Regions from separate parts of the Homo sapiens genome. Here region 1 is reported to be linked to region 2. Evidence: microRNA targets listed by miRTarBase, many of them from high-throughput screens and not tested one by one. Region 2 holds a microRNA gene; the other region holds the end of a gene's coding sequence.

Region 1 (3,132 bases), not on the chromosome of region 2:
GGAAGAGGGTTCTGTTGTTGTTGTTTTGAATGAGCCCATCATAAAAGCAGCAGAAACCATTTGACAGTAGCCATGCTACTGTTTCTGAGTACCCAGAAGGCTATTTGTAGCCTTCGTGAACACTTGCTTTCTAAGCCTTTTGAAATCACGAGAGATAGCATAGCAAATAGGAACCTGTTGTATATTCCATTTGGCTATATTTTGTTTGTTTGTTCATGTTGTCAGCTCACTGCTTAGAATCTAAGGAGACAAGACCATAATAAAGGACAGTGTAGAAGACCTGAAGTTTTAAGCTCCAAATCTCTTAGCTACCAAAATAAATAAATACTACAGAGCTGTTTGTGAGCAAGAGAAAACATCTAGACAGAGTAAGGCTAAAGTCCTTTTTCCTTCACCCCTACCCTCTCCTCTTTTGCATCTAGAGATTTGGAAAATTGCTAGAACCATGAATTATTAGGTATGATGTTTTATTTTATTAGGTTGGAATGAAATACAGAAACCTAATCCTGAAACCTGGGGGATCTCTGGACGGCATGGACATGCTCCACAATTTCTTGAAACGTGAGCCAAACCAAAAAGCGTTCCTAATGAGTAGAGGCCTGCATGCTCCGTGAACTGGGGATCTTTGGTAGCCGTCCATGTCTGGAGGACAAGTCGACATCACCATGTGTTACTGGCCTGGAAACTGAAGGGAGTTTTGCAAGTGAAAATTTAGATTTCTATTGACATCCTTTTGTTTTCTAATTTTAAAAATTATAAAGATGTAAATGGAATTATAAATACTGTGACCTAAGAAAAGACCCACTAGAAAGTAATTGTACTATAAAATTTCATAAAACTGGATTTGATTTCTTTTTATGAAAGTTTCATATGAATGTAACTTGATTTTTTACTATTATAATCTAGATAATATGATATAAGAGGGCTAAGAATTTTTAAATTGAATCATATATATGATATAATTTGATCCTTCTTGTATCTTGAAGTTTTGTACTTGGGATTTCTGGACTGATAAATGAATCATCACATTCTTCTGGTAAATATTTTCTTGGAGCTCTGTGTCAACTTTGATCCTTTGTCTCCCAGGAAGGTGTGACCTCTCCTTTGCCTGCATACCTCAAGGCCAGGGGAATATGCCTCAGTGATGCATTTATCTTTGTATATCAGGCCGCATGATTCCCAACTTTCTGCCACACTTAAATTACGTTCCTCCATTTCAGTTTTGTCTTTTCTGTCTAAAGTTCAGTCAAAGAGTATCAAAAAATTATGTTTCAGCTAGACTGGTGTAATGTATAAGTTTTTGTATCTTGTATTAGAGGATTTCGTAGCTTTTATTAGAGGCTCATTTCCACCTCAGCATACAAGATCGTTAGTCTTTTGGCATGTGTGCCAATTAGAATACTAAAGCAAGTCCAAGCACATTTTTCTCTTCTCACGTTTCTAATAAGTGTTAGGGACTTTGCCTCTTTTACTTACCACGTCCCCAAAAGTGTCAGGTAGACATGTCACAAATGGCTCTGTAGAGAGCCATGGGAAGAGAGAGGAGGTGGATGTGGAACATAAAGGGTTCAGAAACTCCAGAAGAGGAGTGGGTTTTGGATAGAAGCATTTGAGGACAGCTGCTCCAAAGCCTTATGTGTATGATGAAACTTAACCACGGGGAAGAGACTCTTCAGTAGCCTGTTCTGTCTGGTGATTTTTATTTTAAGTGAACCTTTGGATCTATCTTTAACTCTCTTTATTGTGAGTCTAAATTCCAATTCTGCAGCAGATCAGTAAACTCACAGTATTTTTCCTGTGGAAATCTATTCAATAAGGAAACCAAGACAGGATAATAAAATTTAAAAAAAAAACAACTTTGAATTCCCCTGCCTAGGTCTTCCAGTTGTTTTCCAGCGCATACCTCAGGTATGACTTTGCTAGCCGGGGACAAAATTAGCACCTTCCGATTCTCTAGTCCAAATGAACTTTGTGCTAAATAAAAAATTATTATACTACATAATAAAGTTACAGATAGCAGGAAATGCAAGAGCTAGGAGATTCCTAGATTATATCTGCCAAGCAAATACCTTAAACATCCACCTGAAATCCTACTACCCCCTCTTCTGAGATAATTTGCCCAGCCCTTCTCTTCCCACACACTCACTCAATGTCACCCCCTTCTAATCCCCAAAACTGTTTTTGTGGTCTTTGTAGCCTATAGTAGTTTTCTCACATCTTTCCCCCTAGACTTTTCTGTTTTTCAGTTTCAGACAAAAAAACTCTTCAGCTTTTTCCAGTGTGTCTCCTTAACAGTAACTTTACCACTTGAAATCTTATTTCATAGAAAAACTAAATTGGTGTGGAAAGGCTGCACACAATAAAGTTATATTATTATCCATGAAAATGAACTCATATTTCTTTCATACTTTAACGTTAAAACCGAAATGCATGAGAGCAAAAGCACCATGGTGTTCTTTCTATTTAGGGCCTACCTCTAATATTTAAAATCTACCAAAGAGCAGTCACAAAATTAAAACTCAGCCCGGGCGCAGTGGCTCATGCCTGTAATCCCAGCACTTTGGGAGGCCAAGGCAGGAGGATCACCTGAGGTCAGAGTTCAAGACCAGCATGGTCAACATGGTGAAACCCTGTCTCTACAAAAATACAAAAAGCTGGGCATGATGTTGGGTTCCTGTAGTCCCAGCTACTTAGGAGGCTGAGGCAGGAGAATAGCTTGAACCCGGGAGGTGGAGGTTGCAGTGAGCTGAGATCATGCCATTGCACTCCAGCCTGGACGACAGAGTGAGATTCAGTCTCAAAAAAAATTAATACTCAAAGAATTATCTAGCATAATTTAAAAGAAAGGACTTTTTAAAAATTCTCTAGCATAATTCAAAAGAAAGGACTTAACTTTTTTTTTTTTAGTGTGGTCATCCGTCTAGTTGTTCTTTTTTTCCAGATCAGAGCAGAGAATATCACTGACATGCTTGAAATGGTGGATAACTATGTAAATTGTAATTGGACAAATGTACACTTTAGATTTATGGACTGAGCCACATATAATAAGGTCTCTCCTGGTAATTGATCCAGGGGATTTAGGCCTCTTTCGGGTTTTTTGTTTTTTTTTTAGGCATTGTTATGTTGTGAAGG
Region 2 (3,132 bases):
TTCGTGTAGGACAGAGCGTCTTTCTGTCCTCCTATCATCCATTCCACAAGTATTTATTGACCACCTTTTCTGTATATGATACTAAGTTGAGTAATGAGCATACAGTTGCTAACAAGACATGCTTGGTCCCTACCCTCATGGAGCTACAGTTGAGGAAGAAGAATGGAATTCCTCATCATCCATTACACCTACATGCCCTGAGAGTGGGTGGGCCACAGAGTGGACTTCTCATTACCACTGTCACCCACAAACATACACAAAAGCATGAATCTTCTCTGATCTCACATGGAACTCTGCAGGAGAAAAGATTCTCTGCCTTTCTGTAAAGTCCCTAGTAAATGACACTGTATATACATGAGAGTGAGACTTGGTTATAGCTACACATGCACACATACAAACACACAAAAAGGGCAGGTGTCAGAGCCTTCTTGTCTGCTCCCCCTCTTGAATCCTTGGAACCTAGGTGTGAGTGCTATTTCAGTGCAACACACCTATTCAAGGATTCAAAGAGGCTGAGCCTTGTCTACATGTAGAAGGACCAACAACCTGTCCCCTTCTTTCACATGTTTGTGTTTGCTATGCGGTGCCAGATCCTGCACTGGGTGGTGGAGATACAACGGTAAATAAGACAGCTAAGGTCCCTGGGCTCTGTAGAGGGCACCTGTGGGAGAATGAACTTCATCATTGCCCTGGACAAGCTTACACCTCTTTGAGAGCATGAGCTTTCTGTTTACTCCCAGCTTACTATGTGTCAGATACTGTAATGGGGAAACACACATTGGGTGATGAGACTTGCACAGCCAGTCTTTGCTCTCAGTGAGCTTATAGTTTACCAGAGAAACAGAAGAGAATGAAGTATCCCAATTTTCTGTACCATCTTCCAACATGTGCATGTACATGTGTGCCCACATACAGTTTGTCCCAACCTCCTTGCTAGGCCCCAAATACATCCAGCACCTGCAGACCCTCAAGTGTGATCTGAAAAAGATGCCACTCATATCTTTCATTCTAGTCTGAGGTTTTGTCTGAGAGGGCATGTCCATGTGGCCTTGTGCAGGGGGATGAATACATATGCTATCCCTGAGGAGAGGCATCTGTCTTAGCAAATGCACACAGAGATACTTTGCAGGAATGGGACCATGAAAGTCAAATATATATGGAGATATACATGCAGGGTGCAGGTGCCTGAGTCTTCTGCTCTGCTCTTCCTCTCTAATCCTTTGTCCCTGGGTGAGAGTGCTTTCTGAATGCAATGCACCCGGGCAAGGATTCTGAGAGGGTGAGCCCCCTCTGCGTGGAGAACAGAAGATCTGTATGTCACCTCTCAGCTGCTTGCTGCTTGCCTGCCTGCTCTCTGACCCTCATTCATTCTTTCCTTCCACAAATAATATGTATTGGGCACCATGATGGGCATTGGACACAGAGAAATGAACAAGGCAGACTTCGCCCCTGCCTTCCTGGATATTATAGCCTGAGAGGAGAATGGACTTTGTCACCACTCATTGCCCCTGCATATACTGAGGGTGAGTGGGCCACATAGGAACTTCTTATCTACCCTCTTCCCACCTTAACCCACCCATAAGTGTGAGTCTTCTCATTCCTGCTGTCACATTGATACTTGTTTCTTGTTTTTTCCTTCTTTCCTTCCTTCCTTCTTTTCTTTTTCTTTCTCTTTCTTTTCTTTCTTTCCTTCCTTTCCTTTCCTTTCTTTTCTTCTCTCTTTTCTTTTCTTTCTTTTTTGATGGAGTATTGCTCTGTTGCTCAGGCTGGAGTGCACTGGCACCATCACAGTTCACTGCAGCCTCAACCACCTGGGCTCAAGCGATCCTCCCACCTCAGCCTCTCAAATAGCTGGGACCACAGGCTTGTGCCACCATGCCTGGCTAATTTGTGTTTATTTTTTGTAGAGATGGGGTCTCACTATGTTGCCCAAGCTGGTCTCAAACTCCTAGGCTCAAGCAGTCCACCAGCCTTAGCCTCCCAAAGTGTTGGGATTATAGGTGTGAGCCACTGCACCCAGCCTGATACTTGTCGAAGCAACTTCTCTCTACTTTAGTTCAATGCAAGGTTAATGCACTAGGCAAGAACAGCAAGCCTTCTTGTTAGATGCACATGTGAGGTGTACAGGTACTGGAATCTCCTGTCCTGGTTCCCCCTCTCTAATCCTTGCTACCTGGGTGAGAGTGCTTTCTGAATGCAGTGCACCCAGGCAAGGATTCTGCAAGGGGGAGTGACATCTTCGCATAGGACAGAGCACTTCTACCTCCTCCTTCCATCCTTTCTATGACTATTTGTTGAGTACCTACCTACTCTATTGCAGGTGCTGTCCTGGGCAGTTGGCCCACAAGAGAATGAGCCATATCTGGTTCCCTACCTTCATGGAGTGTACAGTTCAGGGAGGAGAATGGACTCCTTCTCATTCATTATATCTGCATGTCCTGAGGGTGGGTGGGGTACAGGGTGGGTGGGGTACAGATACATGTTGGAGAATCTACTAAACCTCAGTACAATCACACATAAATACGCTGTGTGCAAGAGAAAGGGCCTGACTTGGTTACATCCACAGAGACATGTCCTCACAGAGTGGTCCCTCTGACCTGGTGCATCACTCACATTCTTTCAGCCTGTGTGCCAGTACTGCCTTGACTCACTGTCCCTTTTCAAGAATTCCAAGGGAAGAAGCCTTGTCTACACTTAAAAGGACAGAGCTTTTGCACATCAACTCTCCCTCCTCTTCCTTCCACAGATACTCAAGTGTCTATTAGACAGCAGGTATTATGTTCATCACCAAGGATATAGCAGGGATCAAAATGGACAGGTTGCTACCCTACATTCTGGTAGGGACTCATAAACACACTATACATAAATGTTGTGGATGAATAGGCCACTGTTCAAAAGAATGAAGTAGATCTATATGTTCCTTGTTACCCAGTCTGCATGCACAAGCATGTGCAGGTTCTGCTCAAGTGAAATTCTCAAATGTCCCCAATCCTTGTACACCAGACACACTCAGAGACATGGCCCTGCATGCAGAGAACCCCACCTACTGAAAGGGTAGGAGATGGAGCCTGTTGTGCTCTCCTCTCTCCCATTCTCAGCGTGCAAGCCAGTGAGCTTCCTTAACTCCCTTAT

The links. Region 2 holds the annotated microRNA hsa-miR-500b-3p (GCACCCAGGCAAGGAUUCUG, at 2,202-2,221, shown strand). A microRNA usually pairs through its seed, bases 2 to 8, with sites in the 3' UTR of a target mRNA and lowers its output. Matches are read on the target gene's strand: a 7mer-m8 pairs with bases 2 to 8, a 7mer-A1 pairs with bases 2 to 7 and ends in A, and an 8mer does both.
Region 1: miRTarBase lists NLN as a target of hsa-miR-500b-3p. The part of its 3' UTR that is shown has no 7-base or 8-base seed match.

What each region holds. Positions count from the first base shown.
Region 1 is chr5:65,822,302-65,825,433 of GRCh38, forward strand. It overlaps NLN (neurolysin), which reads left to right. Exons shown (of 13, transcript NM_020726.5): 13 at 480-3,132. The coding sequence ends at 614. Among named protein-coding and RNA genes, the nearest start is that of NLN, 100 kb to the left of the region's middle.
Region 2 is chrX:50,008,521-50,011,652 of GRCh38, forward strand. It overlaps MIR500B (microRNA 500b), which reads left to right and starts at 2,152; the gene lies at 2,152-2,230. All of the region lies in intron 3 of CLCN5 (chloride voltage-gated channel 5), which reads left to right. MIR362 (microRNA 362) reads left to right here and starts at 444; the gene lies at 444-508. It overlaps MIR501 (microRNA 501), which reads left to right and starts at 1,202; the gene lies at 1,202-1,285.